6 separate regions of the Homo sapiens genome follow, and regions 1, 2, 4, 5 and 6 are each linked to region 3. Evidence: fine-mapped expression QTL. A gene starts in region 3. Each other region holds a variant in brackets. All regions are shown on one strand. Distances are between the middles of the regions.

Region 1 (5,361 bases), 42 kb before region 3:
ATGTTCAAATGTTTAAATTGTTAAATCTTTAAATTTATAATTTATTAAATTTGTAAGGTTAAACTTTTTAAGTTCAGTATGTTTTCAGTGTTTATTAAGATTTTGCCTATAGAAATGTGAGTCTGCTTTGTTGTTTTTTTCCTTGAGAAATCAATTAAAATTAGATTGTAGTTTGAAATGTCTAAAACTTAATTCTGAAAGTTTGATAAATATTTGGGAGTACCTTATCAAATTTACAAGCCAGTTGGGCATTCATCAAAACCAAATAAAAGTAGATAATAAAATATTAACAAAACTGATTTATAAATTAACACAAGTTTAAAGTCTTCAAAATTAAGTTTTAAAACATATAATTTAAATATATAAAATATAAGTTGAAATTAAAGGGAGTATTTATTTCAATGCATAAAGGCTCTCTTCAGACATAAAGAAAACTCAGATGACATTTTGGAGGTAGGTGGTATCAGTCAGTGTCGGCTAAGTTATGCTGTGGTAACAAGCAACTCCAAAACCCTCAGTGGCTTACAATGACTAAAGTTCAGTTCTTGCTCACATTGTGGGCTACCGGTAGCTTTGCTCTAAGTTTTCCATCCTGGGACCAGCAGTCTGTATTTGGGATATTGCTGGTTTCATGGAAGAGAGAACGAACATAGTAGAACCATATGATGAATCAGAGCTTCTGCTTCGAAGTGGCACACATCACTTCTGTTATCATTGCATTGGTCAAAGCAAGTCTCATGGCCACTCTTGAGGTCAAGGAGATGAGAATATGTAATCCTCCCACAAGAAGGGACACCTCAAACCACATCTCTAAGGCTGATGCAATGAAGTGGGGAAGTATTATCTTCCCCAGGGTGGGGCAGCAAATATTTTGAGTAATAAAATCTACTGTAATGGGGAATAGGAGGTTTTTAAAAAATTCTTACAACTTAGTTTTTTCCCTGTCACATAGGCTGTCAGTATATCCTAACTTACAGAAGTGATTGTGATTGTGTCTGGGTGTTGGAATTATGGTGATTTTAATCTTCTTCTTTGAAAGTTTTTGATGATGAGTATATATTTATTTTGTAGACAAATTAACAATTTTTAATTAAAAATTTAAATTATACCAGGCTTGGTATCGCATGCCTGTAATCCTATCACTTTGGGAGGTCAAGGTGGGAAGATCACTTGAGCTTAGGAGTTTGAGGCCAGCCTGGGCAACATAGTGAGACCCTGTCTCCATTTTTATATAAACAAATAAGCAAAAATTTTGATGAAAAATTTTTTTGTAACCAAATTAAAATTTATGAATTTCATTTGTACAAAAAAGGCAGTGGATAACTAACTTGTTTTTAATATTGGAATGGTAGTATGTGCAGAACAGTGTTTTAGAAAAATACATCTCACAACATTGAAGAAGAAAATGTATGTTGGAGATTTTGTGTTTTAGATATATCTCAACCTGTCAGCTTTGAAAGAATGTGGCTATGAAATGGAGTGTGTTTGTTAAAGAAATAAGTAAATCAGTAAGTGAATGTTGGTTAGTTGGGTGGAGAAAGGCTTAGAAGCATCTAGCACTAAAAGATATATTCTTTTGTGGTTATCTGGCTGATGTCATGAAATTCTGACTTATACCACCAGGGAAGCTTACATTTCTCTTTGGCAGGGAACTTCAAATTTAGTACAGTTTGGACCTCACTGCATAGTCATAGTAAAAACTTTTGTACTTAATTGACTCTTCGTTTGCTTCTGGTTTTATAGTGGCCTTCCTGATGAACCAGCTTTTTATAATCCAAATTGGATCTGTGCCTACTTAATTGTTTCTGTCCCAATTCTACTTGGTGGTCAAGACTGAATCAGATTTTCGGTTCCTCCTTCTCCTCTCGTTTTGACTTTCCAGTGTATTCAACTGAATTTTCATCATAATGACTCCAAAGTACTCTTCTCTTCCTTTGTCTTGTGGTCACAAGAAAAATCACAAGATCACATTGATGGATGACTCATGAGCTCCTCATCTTTCTGATAGAGTCTCTGAACTGAACCAGCGTGAGTCTAGGTTTGCAGGAAGGCTTTTGATTCAGCCTTGTGATTCTCATGAATAGATGGCAATAGAATTAATTTCTCTCTCGATCTTGCTTTTCTTTTTCAACTAATAACTTTATTTACATCTATTTTCCTCCCTACCCAACCCACTGCATGTCCTTTTCTTGACCCAGGTGATGACGTTTCTTAAACCAGTTTGCTCTTCTCCGTATCCAAAGCTGCTCTCGTAGGTCACCATTATAACTCCACAGTTAATGCAGCAACTGCCCAGCTGAGTCTTCCCATCATCGGACGTCCCCAATCCATTCCAGCCATGGTGAGCTTTCAATAATGCAAATCAAGTC[T/A]TCAAGGTCATTCCTGTGTAGAAAGCCCATTGCCTTCTTCATATACTTACGGCTTTCAAGTTCCTTCATATCTAGTCTCTGTTCCCCTTTCTAGCCTACCTCCCAGTACTCTCACTCCAATATAGCTCATGTCAAACAGATACTACTTTTGGTTTCCTGAAATGCCTTTCCTTGACAGTGAACCTTGCTTCTGCCTGAAACACTCTCTCTTTCCCTATTTCTATCAAGCTCCCTGATTTTCAAGGTTCATTTCGGGCAGCATGCCCTCTAGGAAGCATTTCTTGGCAGCCTGATCCTCTGCCCAGCCTCTCATCTGATTTAGGCCATAGATTGAGCATAACATGTTTCACAGTATTGTAATTGTTCGTTTATGTGGTGGTATCTCCTCACATTGAGGGTAGAGATTGTGGTTTTGGTTTTTGTGTTTGTTTTATCATTGTATACCTAGCACCTAGCATAAGGTTGTGATGTACAATTGTTTGCTATATGAATGAATGAATGGATGGATGCCTTCACAAGAAAAATCGCTCACTAGACCATGTTGGTCAGTAGCAGGTACTGGGAGGCACAGAGTCAAGAGTCTAGCACGTGACACATGACAACTGTCTCACTGTGCCATCAGGAATGGAGTGGACCCCTATTGGGATGTCCATCCCCCTACCTTTTTTGGTTGGAACCATCCCTCTTCTCTCCCCTCCCCTCCACACAGTGACAGGGATGGGCTTCTGATTGCCATGTTCATAAACAAGACTACCTGCAACTACTCCCCACCCTGGGTGGGAGTTGGGCACTGTTAGTAAATTGGTCAAGGATGGTGCCTGACCCAAGGTGGTTCAGTCTGTGTCCTTCTCCAGGAACTTGGAATCAGGACGTACAGAGAGTTGCCTCTCTGCAGGTGACGAGATAAGCACAGGCCCTGTCCATGGTCATGTTTTTGGCCATTTGGACCAGAGAACCCGGTTTGCAAGAAGACAAGATTTCTAAGATCCAAGCTCGGATTGCTTTTCCAGACTCCGGCTCTAGGGTCTTCCCATGGCTGTGCAGCTTTCCTGAGCTTGAGGTTCCATGAAACACTCCTGCATCCTTACATGAAATTTCCTTGTATTTAAGCCCTAAATCTCCCTGAAAAACAAGGACTGTGGAAATAAATGAAGACCACCCAAATAAGAACAAACAAAGCCTACTATAGAGAGGTTGCAAGGTAGTCAGCCACCATCACTTGTGTTTGGCAGACACTTAAAGGCAGGCAGAGGTGTGGAAAAGCCTTGTGGTAGAAAAAAGGGAACACTTTGGGCGTGCCCTGAGACTGTTGGCACGGGGAAGCTGCAAGTGGGCCAGCTAGAAGTGCGGCATGCTATGTGATTGGTTGGGGGTGCCCATTTGGCTTTCTCTGGTTAGTCCAAAGTTGGAGGTAGGGGCAAAAATTATGGGAGCTGTCAGTTTATTAATCGAGTCCTGGCCATTTGGGGTCCATTGCTAAGGGGGTTATTGCTTTGCTTCCTGGATTGGTTACTGCAGATAATATGTTGGCTTCCCAGGCTAGTTGCCACAGATTGTGGGTCAGGGTTCTATTTTGATATCTAGTCTGGCCATCCGCATATTCAGTATCTCAGGACAATACCTCTCTCTCCTTCCTTCACTGGGAAACTTTTTAAAATCTTCTGAAATTTACCTGGTTAAGTGCATAATGTGTGCAGGAACAGTTTCAGCTTTCGGAAAGGGAGGATGTTTTAGAACAAGAGGCACAGAAACAAGGATATATGTGCCAGGCCAGGAAGCATTATTACAGGACACGATATCAGAATAAGCTACCTTCCCCTTCCATAACTTCCAGGGCTGGTGGAAAGGGGAGGTCAATACTGATGGACCCTGCACGTTCTCAGGTGCAAGGACCCACTGGGAGAGTGAAGGTGAGCACATTGGGCTTTGAAGTCATTTTGCTTAACTTTGTTTTCCTTGACAGCAGCTCCGCTTTTAAGTTTTGGATTTGGGGGCTGGTGAGATGGGGAGCTGGATCATCTCTGTTCAAAGAGCTGCAGCTGATGCCCAGACTATGTCACATTCTCACTATAAGGGCAGGAAGCTCCCTAACAGACAACTCAGCACAAGGAACTGAGCAAATGTAAAGCTAAGAGCATACTCAGATATCATCACTCTAACTTCCACCATCTCCCCATGTCACTTTTTATTAATAAAAAATAAGTGAGGAAGCTAGGCATGGAGGCTCACGCCTGTAATCCCAGCGCTTTGGGATCCTGGGATCCTCCCAGCTGAGATAGAAGGATCTCTTCAAGCCAGGAGTTTGAGACCAGCCTGGGCAACATAGTGAGACCCCATCTCTACATAAAAAATAATTTTTTTAAAAAAATCAGCCAAGTATGGTGGCATGTGCCTGTAGTCCTAGCTACTCGAGAGATTGAGGTGGGAGAACTGCTTGAGCCCACGATTTTGAGGTTACAATGGGCTATGATCACACCACTGCACTCCAGGCTGGGAAAGAGAGTGAGACTCCGTCTCAAAGAAAAATTGATGACAAAACAGATTAAGAGAATGTATTAGTTTTTTTATTGCTGCTGTGACAAATCACCACAAATTTAACAACATAAATTTATTAGTGGACAGTTCTGTAGTCAGAAGTCCAGGCAGGCTTGCCTGATTTCTATGCTCAGGAATAGCACAGGGCTGGAAATCAAGGTATTGGTTGCAGAGCTTTTACCTGGAGGCACTGAGAAAAATCTGCTTCCAAGTTCATTCCAATTATTGGCTGAATCCAGTTCCTTACAGCTGTAGGTCTGAGGTTCCTCTTTCCTTGCTGACTGTTAGGCAAGGGCCACTTTCAGTTCCTTGAGGTATTCCTTCTCACGTGGTGCTGCCATCTTCAAGCAGCAATGGCACTTGAGTCTTCCTCATACTTCAAATCTCTCCGAATTCCCCTTCTGTTGTGTAAAGGGCTCTTGTGATTAGATCAGGATCACCCAGATCATCTCTGTAT
Region 2 (5,361 bases), 28 kb before region 3:
CCGTGATCTGATGATTTAAGAGTGGCAGTTTCTTCTACATGCTCTTTCTCTTCTGCTGCCTTGTAAGATGTGCCTTGCTTCCCCTTCACCTTCTGCCATGATTGTAAGTTTCCTGAGGCCTCCCCAGCCATGCAGAACTGTGAGTCAATTAAACCTCCTTTCTTTATAAATTACCCAGTCTCAGGTAGTCTTTATAGCAGTATGAAAACAGACTAATACAGACGGCCAACATTTTGGTTAGGTGAAGACGTTTAGCTTTCAGTTGTTTGTTTGGGCCCACTCCTTGTAACTTAGCATGGAGACGGTGCTGAAGAAATGGGGCTAGGGCAGGTCATTGTTAATTGAGGGAAGGATCCTGGGAACATCGGGTTATCTTGAGGACACCCAGAGATGGGAGTGTGAATGGAAGTACCCAGAGTCTGGCAGCAAAGGCACCAGGCCTGGGGAGCCTCGCCCACAGGCATGGGTGGGGGGGCACACAGCATGGCAGAGGTTATGGGTGGGTGCCATCAGGTGGTGATGCATGATATAGTTTGGCTGTGTCCCCACCCAAATCTCAACTTGAATTGTATCTCCCAGAATTCCCACATGTTGTGGGAGGGGGCCAGGGTGAGGTAATTGAATCATGGGGGCCGGTCTTTCTCGTGCTATTCTTGTGATAGTGAATAAGTCTCATGAGAGCTGATGGGTTTATCAGGGTTTTCTGCTTTTGCTTCTCCCTCTTTTTCTCTTGCTGCTGCCATGTAAGAAGTGCCTTTCACCTCCTGCCATGATTCTGAGGCCTCCCCAGCCATGTGGAACTGTAAGTCCAATTAAACCTCTTTTTCTTCCCAGTCTCTGGTATGTCTTTATCAGCAGCATGAAAACAAACTAATACAATGCATATCCCCTCGTTCCCCATCCTTGCTCTCCTGAAAATGAGAGCACTGAGGATGTGTCCAGACCCGTCACAGAAGAAACATGAATGGCTATGCCACTCAGAAAAAAATGTTCAGCCACACGAGAGTCAAGCAGAATGCAGACTAGAAATGATACTAGTTTTACCTACCAAATTGGGAAAAAATAAAAGAAGATAATGGACAATGCTGATCATTTCTTGAAACAGGCACTATGGCTAGAGGGGATGAATTTGTTGAAGCTTTCTGGAAACAATTCAACAACATCTATCAGGAACTTTAAGAATATTTAACCTTTTGTTCCAATATCCCAATCCTGGAAACCTATTCTAAGGAAAAAAAGAGATTATAGGGTTAGAGATTTCAATAAAAACATGGCCAGAATAAAATTATTTATATTGGAAAAAGAATTAAACAACTTCAATGGCCCCAAATAGGGCAAGCATTAAGTAAACAATAAAAATATCCATAGGGGAGACTATTATGCAGCTATTAAAAAAATCATACTATTTTTGAGACACGGTCTCACTTTATTGTCCAGGCTGGAGTGCAGTGGTGCGATCACAGCTCACTGCAGCCTTGAACTCCTGGGCTGAACTGATTCTCCCACCTCAGCCTCTCGAGCACCTGTGACTACAGGTGTGCACCACCATGCCCAGCTAATTAAAACAATTTTTATTTATTTATTTATTTTTTAGAAATGAGGTCTCATTATGTTGCCCAGGCTGGTCTTGAACTCCTGGGTTCAAGTGAACCTCCTACCTCGGCCTCCCAAAGTGCTGGGATTACAGGCGCGGGCTATTGCACCCGGCCTAAACATCACATGAAGGGGTGGTTTGCCCCTCCACACCTGTGGGTATTTCTCGTCAGGTGGGACGAGAGACTGAGAAAAGAAGTAAGACACAGAGACAAAGTATAGAGAAAGAACAGTGGGCCCAGCAGACTGGCGCTCAGCATACGGAGGACCTGCACCAGCACCGGTCTCTGAGTTCCCTCAGTATTTATTGATTACTATTTTCACTATCTCAGCAAGAGGAAGCGGCAGGAGAACAGGGTGATAGTGGGGAGAAGGTCAGCAAGAAAACGTGAGCAAAGGAATGTGTGTCACAAATAAGTTCAAGGGAAGGTACTATGCCTGGATGTGCACGTAGGCCAGATTTATGCTTCTCTCCACCCAAACATCTCAGTGTAGTAAAGAATAACAGAATAAAGAATAATTGCCGCCAGCATATCTCGCCTCCTGCCAGTGTGGTTTTCTACAATCGGGTTTTATACCGAGACATTCCGTTCGGTATGAGACAGAGGCCTTCCTCTTTTACTAATTCTCCTCAGCACAGACCCTTCACGGGTGTCGGGCTGGGGGACGGTCAGGTCTTTCCCATCCCATGAGGACATATCTCAGGCTGTCTCAGTGGGGAGGAACTTTGGACAATACCCGGTTTTCCTGGGCAGAGGTCCCTGCGGCTTTCCGCAGTGCATCGTGCCCCTGGTTAATCGAGAATGGAGAATGGCGATGACTTTTACCAAGCATACTGCCTGTAAACATATTGTTAACAAGGCACATCCTGCACAGCCCTAGATCCCTTAAACCTTAATTCCATACAACACATGTTTCTGTGAGCACAAGGCTGGAGAAAAGTTACAGATTAACAGCATCTCAAGGCAAAACCATTGTTCAGGGTACAGATCAAAATGGAGTTTCTTAAGTCTTCCTTTTCTAAATAGACACACTTGTGATACCCTAACTTGTATTAACCTGATTGACTCTCTCTTAGCTGAGAAACCTGAACG[GA/A]CTCCATTTGGCTCCTTCATTTGCAAGACATCAAGGGCTCCTTACCCACCCCCTTCCTCAAGGAATTAACTTGTGCAAGCTGACTCCCAGCACATCAAAGAATGCAATTAACTGATAACATGCTGTGGCAAGCTATGTCCGCAGTTCCCAGGAATTTGTCCAGTTGATATTACCCTAAGCCCCTGTGTTTTTGTCTGGTTGATAGCACCCAAAGCCCAGCGTCTATCACCTTGTGATGGATTTAAAGCCCCTGCACCTGGAACTGTTTGCTTTCCTGTAACCATTTGTCTTTTTAACTTCTTTTGCCTGTTTTACTTCTGTAAGACTGCTACAGCTAGGCTCCCCCTCCCCTCTCTAAACCAAAGTATAAAACAAAATCTAGCCCCTTCTTCAGGGCCGAGAGAATTTTGAGCACTAGCCGTCTCTCGGTCGCTGGCTAATAAAGGACTCCTCAATTCGTCTCAGAGTGTGGCGTTTCTGTATAACTCGCTCGGTTACAACACAGTAACAGTCTGATCCCCCCTTTTTTTTCCCCTACATCATACTTTCAAAGAATAACTGACATGGATAAATAGTTTTCCTACAGTGTTAACTTTTTGGTGCTGGGGATCTCCAGTGCCGTATACAGACCACACCTGTGCATGTGAAAGATTGGAAGGATATTTTCCAAAGTGCTGAAACATCATTTCTGAGTTGTAGGATTGCAGGATTACTTCCTTCTTTACATTTTCCAATATTTTCTAAATATTCTAAAGTGAATTGCACAATTTTGATAAGGGGGAAAAGATGTCATTAAAAAATGATTGCACCTGCCTGACTGCAGCCAGTGCTCCCTGCTGCCAGTGGATCCTCTGCCTTTGGCAAGAGGCAGATTTCATGAGCCTGGAGACCCTGCCAGGAAAAAGTGCAAGGAATTAGAACAATTCACCCTGGGGTCTGGCCAGGCCCGGTGGAGAGAGGGATGGGGCAGAGAAGCCCATCTGGGAAGCATTTTTCTCAGGTACATCCCCAAATTGAGCTGTGCCCACCTATGGACTCCAAGGACCCCAAGTTAAAGAGCACTTGCTGGTGCCGGACTGAAGGCCCAGCTAAATGCCACCTTGACTCTGGGGCTGTGTGCCCAGTGCCACCCTGAAGAGTGAGGGGATGTGGCTGGACAGATGCTCGGGTAGACCCAGCTTCTGTCCCCCGCTCTGAGCAGCTCAGAGCAGCCAGTGAAGAGCAACACACTTCGCTTCAAAAACCCACAGAGCAGCTTGACAGGGAGTTCTGGTTTCTGCTCCAATGCATTTGAGACTGAAATTTCCCCCCAATGTATTGTCTAGCACTTTTCCACTCTGCTCAGTAACAGCAGCATTGCCAGGGAGCAGGTTAGACGTGCAGAGGCTCAGCTCCGGTTTACAGAATGAGAATGTGCAGTTCAGCAAATCCCCAGGGTACTCAGGAGCACTGAGTTTGCAGCACTGCTCAGCTCCCCTCACAGGGGGATGGACCTCAGACTGGGCTGGGCTCGGGGGAGCAGGGAGGAGGAGGAGAGCACTGAGGAGCTGCGGAGCGGGGGCCTGTGGGAAGCCCACTCCAATCAGGTGGGATGGAAGCAGAAGTGGCTCCTGAGGGGAAGCAAGAGCAGCTGGACAGAGCACTGAGTGGCCCTCGTTTCTGCCACTTGGGGTGAAAGAGGCGGGGCAATAGCTTATTCCAGGGCAACCTCCTCCAGGAATGTGTGGGGTATGGGGATAGTATCTCCCTGTTCCTCACAGGGTCCCTGGAGCTTGGTAGGAAGCAGAAGGTATTATTTTCATTTTCCAGATGGTTTTATAGGGGCTGGGGGAGGGAGCCTGGGAGGTTGCCAGCCTACTGGGAAAGCTCAGAGCCCTCTCCTCACTCCAATGGTGCCAGCTGGCTCTCGGGCCAGATAGGAAGGCTGTGCCCAGGCACACCATCATTCCAGATCCCAGGAGAGTTGCCAGGAATTGGGCTGCTGGGTTTTCTCATCACAGCTGAGGCCCTTCACTGGGGCATCTGGGAGGTACAGAGAACTTGGGCTACTTTCTTTTCTTTTCTTCTTCTTCTTCTTCTTCTTCTTTTGTAGTCCATTTTATTAATTTTCCTCCAGCTTTATTAAGGTATAATTGACAAAGATGAGCCACTGTCATTTTGAGGGGTGGTGGTTGTTCCCAAGGTATTAAAAATGCAGAAATGCCAGCCAGGCCCAGTGGCTCATGCCTGTAATCCCAGTACTTTGGGAGGCCAAGGCAGGTGGATCACTTGAGGGCAGGAGTTCAAGACCAGCCTGGCCAACATGGTAAAAACCTGTCTCTGCTAAAAATATATATATATATATAAATTAGCCGGGCCTGGTGGTGCACGCCTGTAATCCCCACTACTCAGGAGGCTTAGGCAGGAGAATCGCTTGAACCCCGGAGGCAGAGAGCCAAGATTGTGCCACCGCACTCCAGCCTGGGCGAGCGAGCAAGACTGTCCCATGAAAAAAAAAAAAAGCAGAAATGCCAAAACAAGTTAAAATGTTACAGTATATTTTTAAGAAATGTTACATTTTAAAAATGAATGCTTAGAAACACATCCCAGGGGCATATGGATAGAACTTTATACTAGTTTGCTAGGGCTGCCATAACAAACTACTGCAGGACCAGTGGCTTAAACAGACATTTA
Region 3 (5,361 bases):
CAGTATCTAGTTTGCCCACGGCCTCACTTCTGGACCAGATTCTTTTTTGCTGCTTGAGTCTGTTCCCAGTTATCTTCTAGCCTAGGCAATAAAAAATGCCTACAGATGTTTCAATAGCAGGTGGCTGGATTCTATATCTTCCTCATTCTCTTTAACTCTATAGCCTGTCTCCAAAATTAACCTAAGGATAATCACCATAATACTTCTGGAGCCTAGGACTAATAACCTGGATGGGGAGAAGGAAGAGTTTTTTTTTCCTTTTTCTTGAGTGTAGGCAAAAAGGGCTGCACATCCCTTTGTGCACCTGCTCCCATGCCCCCAGGCCTCCTCTGGCTGCCCCCAGTGCCCTCATCCTGCCCCCAGAGATCTCCCACACTTCCCGTGGGATTCTACTCAGCCATGATCTTTTCCCTACAGTGACAATGCCTCTTTTCTTTCCCAGCCACGCCTCCCATTCCCCCACAGTGACAATGCCTCTTTTCTTTCCCAGCCACGCCTCCCATTCCCCCAGTACTTAAAAAAAAAAAAAAAAAGTGAGACAGGATCTTGCTATGTTGCCCATGCTGGACTTGAACTCCTGGGCTCAAGTGATCCTCCCCATTCAGCCTCCCAGGTAGCCAGGACCACAGGTGCACACCACCATGCCCAGCTCCTCAGTCTTCTCGATCTCCATGAAAAGTCAGGAGGTGAATGGGCATTGGAATGAATTCATACTAGTTGGTGAGAGACTGATGGCCACTCAGTCCTAGAGGTGTAAGATTCAAATGAGGCTCTTACTAACCTAATGGAACTGTAATAGGAATTTGAGTCATTGTGCTAAGGTTGAGTATAACAAGTATCCAAGAAGCCCAGGGAGTTACCTGGGGGAGAGCATACCACACCTGCTAGCTCATCCCGTCAGTCTGCAACTGGCTAGCTTCTCTCAAGTGCTTCCTGATTTTCACTTTTTTTTTTTTTTGTTTTTGTTTTTGGAGACACGTCTTGCTCTGTCGCCCAGGCTGGAGTGCAGTGGCACGATCTCAGCTCACTGCAACCTCCGCCTCCCGGGTTCAAGAGATTCTTGTGCTTCAGCCACCTGAGGAGCTGGGAGTATAGGCAGGAGCCACTGCACCTGGCCTAATTTTTGTATTTTTAGTAGAGATGGGGTTTTACCATGTTGGCCAGACTGGTCCCAAACTCCTGACCTCAAGCGATCCTCCCACCTAGGCCTCCCAAAGTGCTAGGATTACAGGTGTGAGCCATAGCACCCCACCCATTTTCACTTTTCTTACTTCATTTCTTATGCAAGAAATTTTCTGAAAGCCTCAAGTTTTCTACATCAGCTTCAAAAATATAAGGAGGGCCAACTAGGAATAGGACAAGGTAGAATAATCACTTGTGTGCTGATAAATATTTAACAACCAGTTCTCTGGAGCCCTGATTTGTAGTGTTTGCCAGTTTCTGTGTAAATACTCCCACCATGGCCAATTTCAAACTACCAACCGTTTAACTGGCTCACAATATTCCTAAAACTTGAATAGTTGGCTCTTATGAGCTGGTAGGAGTTGGCTTCAGCACACTGCTGGTTCTACATGCGTCTTTGTTTCTTGTTTTGCATAAATAACAAGTTTTGTCTTCCCAAAAATGTAATAAGCTCCCTAAGGGATGGAATTATGTTCTGGATCTCCTGTGGGCCCATGGTTTCTAAAATAGTTATAGACACAAAAGATTTAACCAAGAGAGTCTGTTTCCTGTGGACATACTGCGTTCTTGGGCTTGCACAGCCGACAACAGGGAGGCTGCCCCAGGGGTGGGCATGGTGTGGGTTGCTGCCTCCTTTCACCAGCCTCACTCTCATTGCCCAGGCTGGAGTACAGTGGTGCAATCTCTGCTCACTGCAGCCTCTGCCTCCCCAGCTCAAGTGATTCTCCCACTTCAACCTCCCAAATAGCTGGGACTATAGGCAAGTGGCACCACACCTGGCTAATTTTTGTATTTTTAGTAGAGATGGGTTTCGCCACGTTGGCCAGGCTGGTCTTGAACTCCTGGCCTCAAGTGATCTGCCTGCCTTGGCCTCCCAAAGTGCTTGGGACCACAGGCAAGTGCCACCACACCTGGCCCCATTGGAGTTTTTGATGTAGGAGATCAGATGTCCTGGATTACAAGGCCACACACATCTCCAGGCTGTACATGAGAGGAGGATGTCCAGAAATCCTCCAGATCTCATGCATGCACCATTGTATTTTCTCACTGTTAAAGTCATGATAAAACTGTGGTGTTTTTTTCTTCATACATGATTTAATATATCTCTAGGAATTCTGGAATAAGAAAATATATAACCGCACAGCAATATTCTTTGAAACAAAATTTCTAGAGAATTTATAAAAATTTGCTTGGATCTTGATTTACAATTGAAATACAAGAAAGGCTAGTGTACAAATTAGGCAAGTTTCTGTGCTGTACATCCAGCTACTGGTACCACAAATAGAGGATATGTTGTGACTTTTTGAGTTGAGGAGGACTTTTATGATCATGTACACTCTACTGTCCTTTAAGAGGCATTCATTCATTCATTCTTCGTTTATTAATTCAGTAAACATTTACTGGCTATTTACTACATTCCAGGTACTGTGGGGATATTGATTGTAATGACATGATCCTTTATTGTCAATATGCTTACAGTCCACTAGGGGGAGCCAAATATATAAATAAGCTTAAGAATTACGTTGAAGGGGCCAGAATAGAAGTCTGTGGAAGGTGTGGGATGGGATGACAGCATCAGAAAGAATTGGGCAAATCTGTCCCAGGACTAGGTCAGAAAAACGCCTCCCTAGGGAAGGTGCCACCCCAAACACGTGTTTCTGAGACCCCTTACCCGAAATAAGGAGGCTGCCAAGGTGAGCATGGAACGGTTAGGCGTTTTGTATGGAGCAAACTGGGGGGACCCCAGCTGAGACCTCTGGCCTGGGCCTTGTGATTCACGCATAGGCTCATCTTATCGGCCACCGGGTCTGAGAAGAAACTACCACCCTGCAAGTTAACAGGGATCCCTCCGAGAACGGGCACCTCAAAGCCTGAGCCACGTGAGAGCAATGTCTGAGCAACACGGTTTTTAAAAATGATCTCTTCTCCTTTATTGCCACATTCACATAAAACGTTTTGATATATTTGGGTTGGTAAAAGCTAAAGAAAATTGAAGTTAAAATATATATGGTTTTAGTGTTCCGAAAAGCAGTTACAGATTGCTTCCTTGGTTTAATTATCGAAGCGGTCGAAATTCTGGGTTTGAAACTCTTGGAAGTCCTCAGGGATGGTGTCTGCAATAGGAATGGGCACAGGGAGGTTAGCGAGGCTCCTTCCACCCCGGACCCCGGACCCCCGCCCGCGGCTCAGGCGTCCTGTAGGGGGCGCTGTTAGCCCGCCCAGGACGCCCCGCAGGCCCTCGCCGCCATTTTCTCCTGCAGGCTGCTTTGCAAACCGTTGGCTTAAAGCCCAGGAGTGCTCCTTCCCGGCCGTGCAGAAAATCAGCAGGCAGAATGGATTTTGCATCTGTGATTATGTTTTAACCACATGAAAATAAAGGCTTCCTGTAAATTAAATCTGACTGGATTTCTCACTGAACCCCAAACCCTAAACCATGCAGTTAAATTCTATGGGTCTTAATTTCCACATGGATAAAATAGGATAAATGTGATCTGCTTTTTACTTCTGGTACACAGGGACTATCAGGTTTTAATGACTATGTGGTATGAGCGTTGGGCTTTTGGGGGGGAAGTGCGGTATAAAAATAAGGTGGCAGTGTTTGACTAATTCTAGTAACAATGTTGAACAGTAACGAGAATGCACATTACCATTGCAGCGATACTTGAGGTTGGACCAGATGATGTTTTCTTGAGAGAAGCAGAAAACGCCAAGTCGGCCTCCACGCATTGTGGTGTCTATGGTGACGCCAGAGTCAGCCACCAACTCAGAGCCTTCATAAAATCGTACCCTGCGGACAACACGGCCGGAGGGGCCTCCATGAAATCCAACCCGGGGTAAAGTGCCCACTGTGAGGCCCAGGGGCCCCACTTCTTATACGTACCTGCGTCTTTCTTTGCTCTGTTTTAGGCTCCATTTTTCGCTGACCTGGATTGTACTGTAGCTGTTGCCACTTACTTACTAGACTGGAAGTCCTTGAGGGCAGGGACCGTGTGTGTCCGTGTGTGTGTGGAGGGGGGTGGGGGGTGTTTCTTCCCAACTTCTGTCTCTCACAAGGCCTAACATGATGTTGGTCACACTATCAAACTTGAGTTAAAAATCAAACCAAACCAAACCTGCTATCTTGAGTGAGAAAGTTTTGTGTCTTATTGTCATGTGAGTTGCCTTGTCTAGATACCATGCTTAAAAACTTTGGCTTTTCCTTTGGTCTGATTTATATCTTTTGGTGGAATCTCAGAGCAATGATTCTCCACAGGAGACAGCACTCCCTAAGTAGAGTTGGAGGAATCTGTGGGGACACTTTGGGTTGTCACAGTGGCACTGAGTGATGGCAGCCAGGGATGCTGGATGGCGAGCAATGCCCTGGCGAGAACAATCAAAACCTGTCCTGCATTCCATACACTTCTGGAGTGTTCCTCAGACACCAGGGTAGGTAAAGAGCAACTATCAGGGCCTAGAACCTGACTCACTTTCACTTGTAAACAGCAAGTATATTTTGCACAAATTTTAATATAAACTATATTTTCCAGGGTAAATTGAGAAAATTTGTTTGAAAATTAACATTCTAAAATGTGTACCATTTGAGAAATTTACATTGCTGTCATCAACCAGTGTAACAAACATTTAAGTCACTGACACAACAGTCTGTTAGAATGTCACCTTCGTAGTGATTCTAGGCATGGGTGCAAGTGTCTGTTTCATTTTGTCTTCTGGTGTGGCTGTGCTCAAATATTTAAATTATTTTGTTATAAATTATTCTTATTTCTCTATGATATTGTTAGGGCTCACATTGATTTTCTAGATTATACGTGTAGGTAGGTTGTAATTTCTATGATTCCATTTTGGGACGGAAAAGGGGGCATTTCAAAATATTTATAATAAAAAAGGGGCATTGGGCTTAATAGGGCTGAGAACATGATCATCTCACTGTGAGACAAAAAGAGTACATTTGACATAATGTCACAAAGAGAAACAAAACATGAATTTGCCCTCATGATTTTCTTTTTTCCACAAGGCTGCTTTCCTGCCCTGATGAGGAGAATGCACTCAGTACTCCTTCCTAAATATCCTACATAGGCTAGGATGGGTGTTGATCTGCAAGTTCAAATGAAGAAGAACACTATCTACATTTCAAAGACACAGCCCTAAGCCTCCTAACTCCCGAGAATACTTAAAAAACAA
Region 4 (5,361 bases), 910 kb after region 3:
TTTGAGGAAACAAAAATTGGCTTTGTAAACTGACCAACTAATAAACAATTATGAGCATACATTTGGAGCATTTTGCTTTTGGGAACTTCAAAGAAGGTGGCAAACTGTCAGTAATTACAGGCATCATTATCCTTGTGTTATTCATAATGAATCAAATAGAATGAGGGCGGTGCCTCCAGTCACGCAGGAAACTTGAGCTGGAACCCTCAAGACGTGAATGACAACACTAGGGCAATTAGAATCAAGGCTTTTTTAGAATGTAAGTAGCACTACTTACAGGAACATTGTTATTTACATACACAAAGTAAATATTGAAAGATTGGCTTAGGCTAAAAATACTCCAGGTGAGGTTGTAGGACTGGATACTGAAAGAATGAGTTCATATTGTGGGCTTTCTTTTTTTTTTTTGAGACAGAGTCTTGCACTGTCACCCAGGCTGGAGTGCAGTGGCGTCATCTCCGCTCACTGCAACCTCTGTCTCCTGGGTTCAAGCGATTCTCCTGCCTCAGCATCCTAAGTAGCTGGGATTATAGGCACCCACCACCATGCCCGACTAATTTTTTGTATTTTTAGTAGAGACGGGATTTCACTATATAGGCCAGACTGGTCTTGAACTCCTGACCTCGTGAACCACCCGCCTCGGCTTCCCAAAGTGCTGGGATTACAGATGTGAGCCACCACGCCCGGCCTTGTGGGCTTTCGAAATAGAAAAATACTTTTTTCTCATGTTTATTTACGATTAAAGCCATTTTTTAATTCAAGACACATAGGCAAACGTAATTTAGAAGAGAGTTAACCAAAAGTTTGTCCAAGAAATGACAAATGTAGATTATAGCCAAGTACATGTCTCAATTTATAATATTACAATCTTAGGCAAATTATACTTTGCTACATTTTAGCCATCTTATAGGTATTATATTTGAAAATTATTTTGACATGCTCTGTTTTGTGTAACTTTTTTTTAAAAAGTATCCTGGGCAAGGCAATTTATGTATCATCTATAAAACATGGCAAAGTAATTCAATTTAGAATATTTTTCTGGTAGGTCAGTCGAACAAATAAAACTTTCCTATAGATCAAGAAGTTGCCATTGGTCTTCCTGCCCATAGTAAAGCCTTGAATAGAGCCAAGGTGCTTTATTTGGAAAGGAATGAAGGAAGTGTCTCTCCTCTGCCAGGGAAGGAAGCCCACAGTGATTGAGGCAGTTTGAATCTATGCTTTCTATTTTAAAAAGTTCTTCTTGTATAGGCATTTCTCTTTGCCTTTGACACTTTCTGTTGTGGGATAATCCTGCCAGAGTGTTACTTGGAAGAATATATCTATATATCTATATCTATCTATCTATCTATCTATCTATCTATCTATCTATCTAAAATAGATATATCTGTGGGTTTTTTGTTTTGTTTTTTTTATAAAAAGCCTCCAGTGGGATATATCTATATCTATATCTATGTGTGTGTGTGTGTGTGTGTGTGTGTGTGTGTGTGTGTGTGTGTTTTAATGCAGGGAAGGCTGCTCTATAAACATGACAAATGTATGGCATCATTCATTCCATTAAAAGAAAAAAGACAAGTGTGCTGTGGAAATCTTGATATTCTTTGGTTGAGTCCTGAGGATCAAGGCTGAGGAATGTGACACCAGTGAGCTCAGCAGCCTGCATGCAGCAATAGTGAAGAGAAATCTGGCCAGTGGGGCAAAACTTCCCTATCAACCTCATGGCAGCCTGACCCTGCAGACTCCTGTCTCCCAGCCCACCCCTCTAGTCAGCTCCCATTTCGGGGCTGCTTATGCACCTATGAGGAAATAACAGGTTTCTCCTCTGCTCATTTTATTAAGGTGGCATAAATTTCTCCTATGAACAGACTCTTCCAAAGAGTAGGGAAACTCTTCATTAAATGCTCGTGCAACTCGACAAACCGTGTAGGTGGCTTGATACTCTACTGGCTAGAATTCAGGCCTGAATCAAAGGACTGGGAGCTGGAGGGAACTTTAAGGACTTAAAAAAATCCAATCTCCTTGATTTACACATGAAGAACTGAGACCCTGTTACAGCCACAGAGTCAATTAGTGGCAGAGAAATGGGACAGGAATGGAGTGTCTTGACCAGGATTCTTGTAAATAAAAGAGCAACTGATTATCTCAGAAGAGCTGAGAGTGCTGCCTCCAGGCCTATGCACATTCCTATGTGTAGTAACTAAGCAATCTTGGTAGGAAACATAATTTTAGATGGGTTGATTTGGGGCTTCATATTTAAAGAAATGAATTGTGAGCCTGTCATGTGCAAACAGTGCCAAACAATTCTCTTCGCACTGTTTTATAAAACAATCATACGCCCCACAGCTTTTCCTTATTGGGATGTGTCCTTAAGCGAACTCACGCAGATTAAACATTTCATCTTCTATCCCTTTGAGTGTCTCACTCACACACTGTG[G/A]AAACTAAACTTGAAATCCTGAATTATCTGTACAGTATTTAAAGATAATTCCTTTTCTAGAAGATATTCTTTTTTTTTTTTTTAAGAGACTGAGTCTCTCTATGTTGCCCAGGCTGGTCTCAAACTCCTGGGCTAAAGCGATCCTCCTGCCTTGGCCTCCCAAAGTCCTAGGATCACAAATATGAGCCATCATGCCCAGCTCCTAGAACATATTATTTATCTTCACCTTAAGACTAGACAGTTGGTTATATATAGTGGGAAGCCCTGTACTTTGTTTTCCAAGGCATCCTACCCAACTAACAAGTTGGAAATTCTTGCAACTCTGTCTTTCATTTTGTCTGATATGTTTTGTGTGGTCATAGTAAATTTACACAAAGCAAAATATGTTCAGGAAGCAGGAACAGACAAAAAGAAACACTTTAGTACTGGCATCCTAGCAGCAAATTACGTTGCTTTGGTCCTGCTCTCCATAAATACATAGAAAGGCAGGTTGCAGATATTGGCTCTATGAAAATCATAAAGCAGATGAATTTTTACAAAATTGTGAACCTATTATCTGCCAGGCATTTTTCATATGTTCTTTCATTCTAGAAAATGTTTTATTTTTCTGCTGGTTGATATCTGTCATAAAAACTTATTCTTGGAAAAGGATTTTATGTTGGTTATTTATATTTTAACTTATGCATTTATTTACTCAGTAAATATTTTTTGACCACTTCTATGTACCAGACACTATGCTAGGTGTTTGGATGCAGTGGGGAGAAAAAAAACTGCACATGATCCATGACTTTATGGCTTAGACTAGTGAGGGAGATGATATAATAACACATATATATGTGTCAGATTCCAACTTGATGAGCACTATGAAGGACTGTACAAAGTACTAGGAGATAGGAATTTGACCTGGTGATAAAAGCCAATAAAAGCTTCTCTGGGAAACTGATGCTTGAGCAGAAATGTGGAGGAGTTGGAGTTATTAAGGAGGGAATAGTGTTTTAAGTCAAGAAAACAGTATATAGCAAAGTTTCTGTGATAGTGGAGGTCAAGGAGTATAATATGTATTAAAAATTTTGCAGGCCGGGTGCGGTGGCCCACGCCTGTAATCCCAGCACTCTGGGAGGCCGAGGCAGGGAGATCACCTGAGGTCAGGAGTTCGAGACCAGCCTGGCCAACATGGTGAAACCCTGTCTCTATTAAAAATACAAAAATTAGCCAGGCATGGTGGCGGGCACCTATACTTCCAGCTACTTGGGAGGCTGACACAGGAGGACTGCTTGAACCCGGGAATTGGAAGTTGCAATGAGCCAAGACTGCGCCATTGCACTCCAGCCTGGGCAACAAGAGTGAAACTCCATCTCAAAACAACAACAACAACAACAAATTTTGCAGCTGGTCTGAGTGCAGTGGTGTTTACAACTAATTGATCACAACCAGTTACAGATTTCTTTGTTCCTTCTCCACTCCCACTGCTTCACTTGACTAACCTTTGAAAAACATGAGCTTTTGCTCTAATATGTTATATAGGTGTGGCTGGGGTTAGAAGGGCTCTAGATAGACTGGTTAGGAGGTTATTAAATTAGACAAAGTTTGGCTGAATGATATGGAGAAGATGGAAGACACTGGAGAGTTCTGACAGAATTGAGGGATGGTGTGGGCATGGAGGAGAGAGAGAGCTGTCATGGATGACTTCTGCCTTTCAGGCTTGTTCAACCAGATGACTAGCTCACTGGGATACGGGACCATAGAAACCAAGTTAGGAGTATCAGTGAGTGTGGGGAGTGGGGAGAGCATGAACTCATGTTAAGTTTGGATGGCTTTGAGAATCCCAGGAGGACAAGGCAAGTTGTGAGTTGTATAATCGAGTTTGAAACCTGAGGACACAGAGCCTTGCACTGGAGATATAAATTTGTGAGTCCTCTCTGTGTGGATGGTGATGAAGAAATTGAATAGAGCACCTGGGAAGATAATATTTTATAATGAATTTAAATAAATGTTTTTGCTTTCCTTTGAGGATGTGTCTTTTAAGCTTTGTCTCCAAGTACAGCATATATCACTTTGATTCCTGATCAAGGTCTTTCAGGTTTTAGAGCAGGTGGATAAACTCATGAACCTGGGCAGAAATGTCCCTAAAATTATACCACATAATTCAATCCTGCTGGGCTTGTTTAAAAGTTAACTGAAAAGACATGAAAGTTTTTGGTGTGTGTGTGTGTGTGTGTGTGTGTGTGTGTGTGTGTTTTGCAAGTGGCGGGTGGTGCAGGGGAAACAGGGTTTCGCTTTGTCACCTAGGCTGGAGTGCAGTGACGTGAACATGGCTCACTGCAACCTTGACCTCTTTGGCTCAAGAAATCCTCTGCCTCAGCTTCCTGTGTAGCTGGGACCGCAGGTGCACATCACCACACCCAGCTAATTCTTTTTTTATTTTTTTCGTAGAGATGGGCTCTTGCTGTGTTGCCTAGGCTGGTCTCGAACTCCTGACCTCAAGCAATTCACTCGCTTTGGCCTCCCAAAGTGCTGGGATTACAGGCATGAGCCACTATGTCCAGCCTGAAAGATATTTTTTTGAATATTTAGGAAAAATCAAATTTAGCTGTCTGCTTGGGAGGCAGATAGTATGCATGGAGAGAAGGATAGGTAAAATGCAGAGGCCTACACAGAAAATTAAATCCTATGTTGGCAAACAAACCGGTTAAGATGATGGAAGATGTCCTTTCGATCTAAAGCAGTTTGAAGATGTTTCTTGCATGAAGACTGAATTAATCTGATTAAGCAATCTAATTAATCACCCCTATTGTCTTTTAGTAAGTTAAAGGTATTTATTCTATGTCAAGGTGTTCACATTCCTTTGAAATGTAATCTTTCAAATTTACTTCATTTTTTATCTTATTTTATTTTTTGAGATGGAGTCTTGCTCGGTCACCCAGGCTGGA
Region 5 (5,361 bases), 35 kb before region 3:
AACCATAAGGCAAAATAAACCTCTTTTTAAAATAAATTACCCAGTCTCAGGTATTTCTTAATAGCAATGCAAAATGGATTAACACACTGACTATAGGTTAGTTGTAAAATAGATCCCAAAAGTGTATGATATAGTTTAGATGGCCCCTCCAAATCTCATGTCGAGATGTAATCCTCAGTGTTGGAGGTGGGGCCTGGCGTTTGGGTCATGGGGGTGGATGCCTCACGCCTTGATGCTGACCTTGTGATAGTCAGTGAGTTTTTGTGAATAACTAGGGGACAGCAATCTCAGGGAGGTCATCCTGAGATTCCTCACCACCACACCAACTCTCACTCTTGATTCTACTCTGCCATGTGAGATGCTTGCTCTGGCTTTAAGTAAAAGCTCCCTTAGGCCACCCCAGAAACTGAGCAGATGCCAGCACCTTGCTTGTGCAGCCTGTAGAATCATGAGCCAGTTAAAACTCCTTTCTTGGAAAAACAGACAAACAAACAAACTCCTTTCTTGGCTGGGTGCGTTGGCTCATGCCTGTAATCCCAGTACTTTGGGAGGCCAAAGTGGGCGGATCACCTGAGGTTGGGAGTTCGGGACCAGCCTGACCAACATGGAGAAACCCCATCTCTACTAAAAATATAAAATTAGCCAGGTGTGGTGGCACATGCCTATAGTCCCAGCTACTCAGGAGGCTGAGGCAGGAGAATCACTGGAACCTGGGAGGCGGAGGTTGCAGTGAGTCAAGATCGCGCCATTGCACTCCAGCCTGGACAACAAGAGCGAAATTCTGTCTCAAAAAAAAGAAAAAGCCTCCAAAACTCCTTTCTTTATAAATTAAAGTCTCAGGTATTTCTTTATAGCAATGCAGGTATTTCTTTTCTTTTTTTGAGACAGAGTCTCACTCTGTCCCCCAGGCTGGAGTGCAGCCTGAAACTCGGCTCACGCAACCTCTGCCTCCTGGGTTCAAGCGATTCTTGTGCCTCAGCCACCCGAATAGCTGGGATTACAGGCGCCTGCCCCCACACCTGGCTAATTTTTTGTATTTTCAGTAGAGATGGGGTTTCACCATGTTGGCCAGGCTGGTCTCAAACTCCTGGCCTCAAGTGATCCTCCTGCCTCAGCCTCCCAAAGTGCTGGGAGGTGTAAGCCCCCACGCCTGGCCATGGGTATTTCTTTAAAGCAACTATATTATAACCTAATATGGTATATGAGCTTATTTCTCGTTTGCAGAAGAGTCCAAGGCAGGCATTCTAGTTGATGGATAGCTTTCCCCTACCTAGTAACTCAGGCATACAGGCTCCTTCCATGTTGTAGATCCCCAGTTCCCTAGAACCTGTCACCTGCATCCAAGTGATGTAAGACAAAAGAAAACCTGGAGGAGGCATATCTGTTCCTTAAGCCTTTGCCAAGAATAGGTACTATAACTTAGAACCATATCCCCTTGGTGAGAACTAGTGTGGCCGTGCCTGGCTGCAAAGGGTGCTGGGAAATATAGTCTAGTTGTGTATGAACAAGAAGAAGAAATGGATTGGTGAATAGTAGCAGTCTCTGCTTCAATCTACTATGAGCAGGCACTTTACATAATTATCATTGAATTAACACCACTACCCTGACAGGTATAGCCCCCCCTTTATAGAAGAGGAAGTTGAGATCCAAAAAAATGAAGTAACTTGCCCAAGGTCCCACAGCTATTATGTGGACGACCCAGGATTGGACCCTATTTCTGTTTAGTTTCCAAACTCTTACTCTTTCCAGTATTACATATTGACTCCTAGGTAGCAAGCCCCTACCTAGGTTGGACTATAATTTGATTGCTATGGTTGAACCAGAATTACCAAAGGGGGTTATTTAAAATGGTTGGTTCCTATCCCCACTCTGTTGAAGCTTTGTTTAACCAGCCTGGTAGAGGCCCAAAAATGTGCATTTAAACAAGCTCTCTGGGTTATTCAGATGTGCTGTAATGTTTGTAATATACCAGAACAGCTTTCCCTTCTGGGATGGGGAAATCATTAAGGTAAATTCCCAGTTGCCATCTGGAAAAGTCCTCCTCTCTGGGATTTGGGATCATAATCTATTTATGAATTTCTGGAACTTCTCCAGTGTAGCTGACCTTCCATCTGTAGGAATGGCGTCATGTGGAGGGATTCAAAGAATAGTTAACAACAGTGCAGTGAGTGCAGTTAGTTCTATGTGCCTGCCCTGGTGGCCCTGTTCTCTGCTGACAAACCCACCCAGCTGATCCCTGCACTGCTTAGATTGGGGTCACTATTGGGTGCCTCTAATTCGCTCCTTTAGATCCCTGTGGAATCTTACATAATTGGTGATATTGGCTGTCTAGGCCACTGGTTCAGCCAGTTTGTCACCCCACCTTCACTAAGGATAGACTGTTTGCAGACTTGTGCTAGACTTGTGAAGGAAGCAGAGATAACTCCAGCTCTTAAGAGCTTGTAGACTAGTGGGGTAAACCTACCACTAGTAATGAGAGCTACCAATTATCCAGTACTTTTAACATATTAGCTTATTTAATTCTTTCAAACAACCCCGGGACATAGCATTATTGGCATTATTGGCCCTTTTCCAGAAGCTGAGGTTCAAAGATATTAAATAACTGAATCAAGGTCATCCAACTAGTGAGTGATGGTGGGGCTGGTATTGGAATCCAGGTCAGTCTACTTCTAAAGTCCATGTTCTTAGGTACTCCAAGTAGTGGACCAAATGTTGGTGTAATGGACTGAATATTTATATCTCCCCAAAATTTATATGCTGAAATCCCAGCCCCCAGGGTGATGGTATTTGGGAGATGATTAGTTCATGAAGATAGAACCTTCATGAATGAAGCTGGGTGCAGTGGCTCATACCTATAATGCCAACACTTTGGGAGGCCGAGGTGGGTGGATTGCTTGAGGCCAGGAGTGCGAGACCAGCCTGGCAGCCTTGTCAACATGGCAAAACCCCATCTCTACAAAAAAAAAAAAAAAAAAAAA[T/AAT]TAGCTGGACATGGTGGCATGCGCCTGTAGTCCCAGCTACTCAGGAGGCTGAGGTGGGAGGATCACTTGAGCCTGGGAGGCAGAGGTTTCAGCTAGCCAAAATTGTGCCACTGTACTCCATCCTGGGGGACAGAGTGAGACCCTGTCTCAAAAGAAAGAAAGAAAAAAAAGAGACTAGAAGCCTTATAAAAGGAAGAGAGATCCCTGGCCCCTTCCGCAATGAGGACATAGTTAAAAGACCTCACCAGACACTACAGCTTCCAGTGCCTTGATCTTGGACTTCCAAGCCTCCAGAACTGTGAGAAATAAATGTTTGTTGTTTGTAAGCTACCCAGCATCTGGTATTTTGTTATAGTTGCCTGAACAGTCTAAGATAGATGGTTCCCAAAAAGACGTCTACATCCTAATTTCCAGAACTGTAAATGTTAACTTTGCAGACGTAATGAAATTAGGGATCTTGATTTGAGGAGATCACCCTGGATTAGCCAAGTTATTATTATTATTTTTTTTTTGAGGTGGAGTCTTGCTCTGTCACCCAGGCTGGAGTGCAATGGTGTGATCTCAGTTCATTGCAACCTCCGCCTCCCAGTTTCAAGCAATTCTCTTGCCTCCACCTCCTGAGTAGCTGCAATTACAGGAGCCCGCCACCACGCCTGGCTAATTTTTGTATTTTTAGTAGAGATGGGGTTTCACCATGTTGACCAGGCTGGTCTCAAACCCCTGACCTCAAGTGATCTGCCCACCTCGGCCTCCCAACATGCTGGGATTACAGGCATGAGCCACCATGTCTGGCATGACAAGTGTTTTTATAAGAGACACACTGAGGAGAAAACAGACACAGATGAGATGATAAGAAGACTAGGTAGAAATTGGAGTGGTGCAGCTACAAGCCAAGGCATGCTGACAGCCACCCAAAGCTGGAAGAAGTAAGTAATAGATCACCCCCTAGATCCTTTGGAGGGAGCACAGCCCTGACAACATAGTACTTTCAGACTTCTGGTCTTCAGAACTGTGAGAGAGTAACTTTCTGTGTTGTAAATCACTGGTTTGTGGTCTTTTTTTTTTTTTTTTTCAGTAGCCACAGGAAGACTAGTACATTCTATTTGTTTTATAAGAGCAAAACCACAAGGCAGCATATAATTCAAGGCTGAAGGAGTGTGGCATGCTGACAGATGGTAAGAAAAGCTGAATGTCAGAGAAAGATACCAAATCCAGTCAGTGGCTCTGTGTGATTATCAGTTAGTATGTGTCCTTTTCTCTTGTGTCCAACTTACATCATCACCATCACCTATTATTGAGCACTTAATATGTGCTAGGTACCAAGCTAAGTGCTTTGCCTAGATCACCTCAGTTAAGCCTCGCACTAATTCTATGAGGTAGGTGCCAATATTTGCCTATTTTACAAATGAGGAAACTGAGGCTCAGAGAGGTGAGGTCCCATCTGCAGTTGGACTGTGAGTAAACGGCAGAGTGAGGACCAGAACTCAAGTGTGTCTTACTGCAGAGTCTTGGCTTACGCAGTTCCTAGCCATCTTCCGTGTTAGTTTGTTCTTCTGCATATAGTCATTGTAGTTAAGAGCTCTGGGCCAGGCATGGTGGCTCACACCTGTAATCCCAGCACTTTGGGAGGCTGAGGCGGGCGGATCGCCTGAGATCGGGAGTTTGAGACCAGCCTGGCCAACATGGCGAAACCCCGTCTCTACTAAAAAACACAAAAAATTAGATGGGCCTGGTGGCACTCGCCTGTAATCCCAGCTACTTGGGAGGCTGAGGCAGGAGAATCAGTTGAACCTGGGAGTCAGAGGTTGCAGTGAGCCGAGATTGTGTCAGTATACTCCAGCCTGGGCGAGAGAGCAAGACCCCGTCTAAAAAAAAAAAAAAGAGCTCTCCAGTTTCTGGTCACCAGAAAGTCACTTGAGCCAGTGGGGGTGGAATGAGGCCTGGCTCTATGAACCTGAGTCGTCTAGTGTAGGACATCCCCCTCCAGGCCAGAGCAGCCTGCCTCTGTGGATGTTTGTTAATGAACGAGTGAACATATGGTTGGGCTGCCAGCAGAGCTCTGCCTATCTCAGGGCCACAGGAGGCATTTATGTCATCCTCTTGGTAGGTATGCCACTAGCGTCTGAGCTCAGTTACTGAGCTTCTTCCCACTGAGGAGAAAAGGCAGGTAAGCCTGGCTCTCACTCTCTGCCTCACCCACTAAGCCTGGAGAGTGGGGAAGGAGGGGTATGGAGATTATAGCATGCAAGTCCCAGGGAAGGGAACGGAGAAAATGGACTGAAGTTTCTGATAAGGTTCATAGTGATCTGGATGGCCTGGGCCTGTCCCATTCTCTGTCCAGGAAGAGGAAGGGAACACAAGGTGAGATTTTGATTTCTATTTT
Region 6 (5,361 bases), 210 kb after region 3:
CAGGGTGAGTATCTTTGCCCTTTGGAATAAATCAAGTACCCTTACTGGATATTACAGAACCCTCTGGATGTCTCCCAGCAAAACCTTATTGCCACTGGCTATTAATGTAATCACTTATTCTGGGCCTGTTCTTCTTACCAGACTCTAGGTCCCATGAGGGCAGAGGCGACCGCAGTCCTACTCCCTGCTGCATCTCTAGGGCCCAGTCAGGGGCCCTGGACATACTAGCTGCCCCAAAGCTATTTTCTGAATAAAAAGCTGCATTGCGGCCCATCAAAACACTTTACATTTGCCTTTAAGTTAATAGCACGTGTAGGTTGGGCACAGTGGCTCACGCCTGTAATCCCAGCACTTTGGGAGGCCGAGGCGGGTGGATCACTTAAGGCCAGGAGTTCAAGACCAGCCTGGCCAACGTGGTGAAATCCCGTCTCTACTAAAAATACACACACACACACACACACATACACACACACACACACATAAAAGCATGTATAGATATTTTTAAATTGACTAACAAATTTTTGCAGTCAATCATTTGAAAGTTAAGTTCAAATGATTTTCTAAAAAGATGTAAATTGGGGTTGAAACCCAAGGTTCTCGGCTTCCAGGAATTTTTCTCTAGGGATAGTTATTTAACTGACCGAGCAGCACCCCTCATTATTCTTGGATTTTCCCATACTTGCCAGGGTCTTACTCTCCTTTCTCTTCCTACAATTCATCATCTTCAGAATCTCTACATATGGGCCTGAGCAGACCCCTCATATTGGTTTGAGTTGGACACCATTTTGATCATTAGACCTTTGTTTGCTGTTTGGTGGTTTTTTGTTGTTGTTGTTGTTTTTCAGAAACACGCAAATGTTGTGTTTGATCTGTGGTTAAACACTTCTTGAACACTTCAGACCTCGGCTTCTTGGTGATCTCATAAATTTTCCACAGACTGTGTGTCATTCACAACCTAAGGATCTGGAAGGAAACCCAGCTTTAAAATGCACTTCCCAGTGATTTCAGCCTGAAAGGTGATATGTCTGTTTTTCTAACATCTCAAAGTCACTGGAATGTGCATTGGCAATGTTTCTAGACCAGATTTCTGGGGAACTGGCTCATTTGTCTGAGAGACACAGTTAAGTTAAAGACACTAAAATCTCAATTCTCTTGGCTACTTCACTTCAACTACACAGATGGCTGCTTTGGAGACTAGCATATATATTAGCTGAGATAAACAGGAATATGTCCTGGCAGAAGAGTATTGTCCAAGTGATATTAGAAGCAAAGCTTCTGAGAATGTCATTAAGAATATGTCCTTTAAGTGGTGAGACCATTGGTTGATGTAACTCAACATTCATTCCTTTATTCACATGTATTTCCTGCACAGAGGCTGCAGGCCAGCCTCTCTGCTAAGCTACATGAATCAGGCACAATCTCTACCCTGGAGAATTTTATAGTCCAGTTGAGCAGACAAACAATTATAGTGCAGTGGTAGCTTTGTGTGTGTGCTTGGTACAGCAGGCTTTGGGGGCACAGAGTGAGGAGTGACCACCCCTGCCCTAGAGGATTCAAGAAAGGCTTTCTAGAGGAGGCTTTGAACTGGATCTTGAAGAATAAGTGGTAGTTTACCACTCTTGGGAAAAAGTGGCAAGGGAACCTAGAAGCAACGGCATGGCAAAGACACAGACTCAAGAAAGAAGACTCACTGTTCCAGAAATATTTAGGAGCTTGATGTGGCTGGAGCACAGGTCCTCTGGGGGCAGCAGTAACATTTTCATGGGAACATGGTAACTTGCTCTTCATAGGCTGATCCTAGTGACCATGACATCTAATATCTGTGAATTTATCTGACCTATTCTCGGACCCATTTTTTACTTCCATGCAGAACACCTAATGGGGGTAATGGGTTCCACTTACAGGCTACAGGCTGTGTAAAGATCTATTTCCTTTCAGTTGTCCTAAAATACTTCCTTAAATGATCACCAACAGGGTCATTTTTCCCTCTTTTTATAATTGCAGTGTTTTGGCACTCCTACCTAATCCCCAGGCATCCTATAGATAAAGAATGGATGTGAAAGGCACCACTGAAGCCCTGGCTGGGGCAGCCATGCCCACCTAAAGGCCAAAACCCACCCCCGCTCCACCTTCCACCTCACACGCACAGGCCGCATGCTGCCTTTTTGTAACTCTTTTTCTCT[C/T]TGATGACCTCCCTTGATGTTAATGTTATTCTTTTATTTTTAAAAAAATAAAACAAAATCCCCAATGCATTAATGTGCAATGAGAACTAGATCTGCCAAGTGACTCACAGCAGCCCGAGCAGGACAGTCTCCCCATGCAGCTGGGAAGAATCTGAGCCTCGGCTGCTGATTAGAAGGATGGAGCTGGTGAGCGGCATCGGGTGCCGGCAGACTGCAGCGTCCATTGCCGCAGTAACAACACTCCTGGCACCTGGGCTTCTCCCCAGTCAGGACTGGGATTGGCCCTGCCAAGGTGACACTCTGGAGAGCCACCTTCTTCTGATACCTGTAAGGATATAAATGTTAGGGAAGGACAAAGCTTTTATAGGTGATCTACAAGATGGCTTTACAAAAAAGTTCCTTTGGGACTTTGTCCTGAAACAGGAAGCTTTTAGCCAGAGCCATTCTGGAATTTTAAAAAGAAGGGACAGGATTCTAATCTCAAACAACCCCTGGAATCAACTTTTGACTCCTCCTGTCTGACTTTTCCTCCTCCTGCTGGGACAATAGAACTTGCCCGGCTCTACCCAGGGCCCTTTCCCTTTTTTCTTTCCTGGCCTCTTGGCTCAGCTCACCTCCCGCTTCTCATCCTCCCTGAGCGATGTCACACATGCCCATGGCAGGCAGGAGAGGAGAGAGGTTGGATAAGGAACACGGTGCAAGCCTGACTCCACATGAAGGAGAGATGGGAGGAAGGATGGAGAGAAACACTGTAGACCACCCAGCAATGTAAAGAAGCTCAGCAGCGTTATGGGGGTGTTCTTGAGCAAAGGTGGCCATCAGAGTTGTCCTGGCTTCCAAGGAACAGGCTGCCCTGGCACTCCCACCAACCTCAGCCATTGCCTTGGTGTAGCCTATGGGAAGCATGGCCTCCATACAGGCATGGTGATGGATTGCAGAGTGCAGCAGCTGGGCTCCTGGTCAATGAAGTTCCTCCATCTTGGAGGTCTGCGAGGCTCATACTCATGGCTGCCACACTGGAGGACTCCATGTCATCCTTGCCTGGCCAGCTTCTACTGTCTTCCAGGTCTTAGTTTAAATGTCACTTCCTTAGAGAAGCCAACCCTGACCTTGGGGTTGCCCAGGCCCCCCTGCTGTCTACTCCCAGAGCGCACACTTCACTAAAAGTTCCTGTTCAACTGACTCCTCCGATGCACTCTGCACTCCAGGAGAGCTAGGCTGAGTCCACAGTACTCGGCAGTACTTGGCCCCTAGAAGCCACTCAGTATGTATTTCTTGAATAAATGAATGACTAGTTGCTGGTGCTTGTGAGACAGCTCAAATTGTGCAACAACCTTGGCTTTAGGGAATATGCTTCTTCTGCAATGGATTGTTCCAGGTAAAAGCTTTGCCTTTATGGGGCATTTACAATTTTCAGGCTGAGTTTTCAGAACAACTGAAAGGACCCCTTGAGGGAAACATTTCAAATCAGGGCAATGTGCCTGAGCCTCTGTGGCTATTTCCCTAACTTTATGCCTTAGAATAGGGTCTGGAGCAAGAGAATTGGGGACAATGGAATCCGGTGAAAATCTACTTTCTAATCCTGCTTCGGGCACTAACAGGGTCTTAGATTTATTCTCTAAAACCGGTGTTCATACTGCTCTTTCTCCTTGGGTTAACAAGAGCCCTAAAAGACATGCAAGATGTAAACATGTTTTGGGCGTTTCTCAATGCCAGCCCAATCTCGGATTGTCTTGCTGTGGCTGTTGCTTGTGGACTACAGATTTCAGGGTGCAAGCAAGTAAGTGAAGCGAAGATGTGGATTGGGACATCAAGATTCCCCAAGATGTTTTGTGGGTGGCTGTGCCTTGGAAAATAACACAGGAATAAAGAGAAGATGGGGTTGCCTAAAGCAGATCAGAACTGTCTGACGAGTAAGGAGGGATGTGTAAGCCATGGAAGCTCATTCACATGATTTTACATCGGGTGTAAAAATAGCTGGAACCCTAGTTCCAGCTAATACTCTTCACTGGGAAAAATGTGGGCAGCTCTGTGGTAAGAAGCAGTACTTCCTGATAAAATCTGTCGATCCGTTTAAGATGCTCGGAACCCAGTCCCTCAAGATGTCTACAATGCCTCAGCCAAGTTGGCCAAGGCCCTAGAAAACATTACATGCTGCGGAGAACAATGTGTATTGGCAGAAGCCACTCTCATGCTCTGTGTACAGCTCAGTTCAACCTCAGATCACCACGGACAACCAGTGGGGGCCCCTCGCTGGTCCCAGAGCACCCACTGGAAGCACCTAGGGCAAGAGCACCTTTCTGGGTCCCCGAAGTTGCGTGGCACACTTGGAATAAATACAGGCATCAGAGAATCCAGAGAGACCCAGGTTCAAGGCCAGACTTCACCAAGTCAGTTCTAGGGCTTTGCACTATTTCCTTAAATATGACTTTTTCATCTGTCAAATGGAGCTACAGCAAAATCCCTCACAGGGTTGTGATAAGGATTTCAGATAATGTATGTCAAATATCTAGCCCACAGAAGAGTTCAATAAGTCAGAACTATTATTATTTTAACAAACTTGTGTTTGGATGCTGGTTTTGCCGCTTACTAGCTCTCTGATCTTGAGAAGTTTACTTAGCCTCATTGAGCCTCATTTTCCTTATTTTTAACAGGAGAAAATAGTACTTAACTTTCAGTAGTGTTATAAGAATTACAGTTAACGTAAGAAAGGTATCTGAGTATGTTCCTGGCACAGAGTAGTACTCAAAAAAAGTTATGTACTATCATTTTTTGTAAATCAAAACAGGAATGAAAATTATTCATGTTGGGTCATATCAAGCAAGTGTGCGCGAGGCTAACAAGCCATTTGAATTGTTCTGTGGGAAATAAACTCTCTTCCAAAACTGGCTGTCTCATTTCCCCAGGTTAGATGCGTTCTGAACCTAAGACTGACCCAGAACTTGGAAGGGTTGGGCCCTACCTACCCTCACTCCCTCTATGGGGCTCTCCTTCCTTTGGCCACTTTCCAAGGAGACATTTTCTCCTCCAGCCCCAGGTCCCCTGAGGAGAGCTGAAGCAATAGGTCACTATCATTTAAACTGCTGCAGAATTTGCAGACCGTGAGACTCCTGTCTCTCCCCACTCTGCCTGGCTCATCCCCAAGAAGAAAGGAAGCCAGAGGTGGAGGAGGTTATAA

Direction of the effects. Positions count from the first base shown, and alleles are read on the strand shown. Sizes are in standard deviations (SD) of each study's normalised expression. Not every link is listed here.
In carriers of allele G in region 4, the expression in prefrontal cortex of the gene that starts at base 2,711 in region 3 tends to be higher than with A alone (large effect, 1.0 SD a copy in BrainSeq).

What was found. PIP is the estimated chance that this variant, and not a neighbour inherited with it, causes the effect.
Region 1: its variant is the best candidate, but not a certain one, in a credible set for the expression of THBS4-AS1 in monocytes (BLUEPRINT, PIP 0.51).
Region 2: its variant is the best candidate, but not a certain one, in a credible set for the expression of THBS4-AS1 in whole blood (TOPMed, PIP 0.50).
Region 4: its variant is the best candidate, but not a certain one, in a credible set for the expression of THBS4-AS1 in prefrontal cortex (BrainSeq, PIP 0.77).
Region 5: its variant is the best candidate, but not a certain one, in a credible set for the expression of THBS4-AS1 in whole blood (INTERVAL, PIP 0.64).
Region 6: its variant is the best candidate, but not a certain one, in a credible set for the expression of THBS4-AS1 in visceral fat (GTEx, PIP 0.54).

What each region holds. Positions count from the first base shown.
Region 1 is chr5:80,122,639-80,127,999 of GRCh38, reverse strand. It overlaps a transcript of SERINC5 not described here. Among named protein-coding and RNA genes, the nearest start is that of THBS4-AS1, 42 kb to the right of the region's middle. The variant T/A (reference allele first, on the strand shown) is at 2,370.
Region 2 is chr5:80,109,013-80,114,373 of GRCh38, reverse strand. It overlaps a transcript of SERINC5 not described here. Among named protein-coding and RNA genes, the nearest start is that of THBS4-AS1, 28 kb to the right of the region's middle. The variant GA/A (reference allele first, on the strand shown) is at 2,688.
Region 3 is chr5:80,081,015-80,086,375 of GRCh38, reverse strand. It overlaps THBS4-AS1 (THBS4 antisense RNA 1), which reads left to right and starts at 2,711. Exons shown (of 8, transcript NR_109930.1): 1 at 2,711-2,876; 2 at 3,839-4,016. THBS4 (thrombospondin 4) reads right to left here. Exons shown (of 22, transcript NM_003248.6): 21 at 3,831-3,970; 22 at 3,089-3,296. The coding sequence ends at 3,235. RefSeq lists an enhancer at 256-550 and silencers at 1,983-2,197, 3,313-3,402.
Region 4 is chr5:79,168,793-79,174,153 of GRCh38, reverse strand. It overlaps the pseudogene RNY3P1. Among named protein-coding and RNA genes, the nearest start is that of BHMT, 60 kb to the right of the region's middle. The variant G/A (reference allele first, on the strand shown) is at 2,432.
Region 5 is chr5:80,116,332-80,121,692 of GRCh38, reverse strand. It overlaps a transcript of SERINC5 not described here. Among named protein-coding and RNA genes, the nearest start is that of THBS4-AS1, 35 kb to the right of the region's middle. The variant T/AAT (reference allele first, on the strand shown) is at 2,979.
Region 6 is chr5:79,872,387-79,877,747 of GRCh38, reverse strand. The region is part of intron 1 of LOC105379048 (a long non-coding RNA gene); the gene reads right to left. Among named protein-coding and RNA genes, the nearest start is that of LINC01455, 62 kb to the left of the region's middle. The variant C/T (reference allele first, on the strand shown) is at 2,184.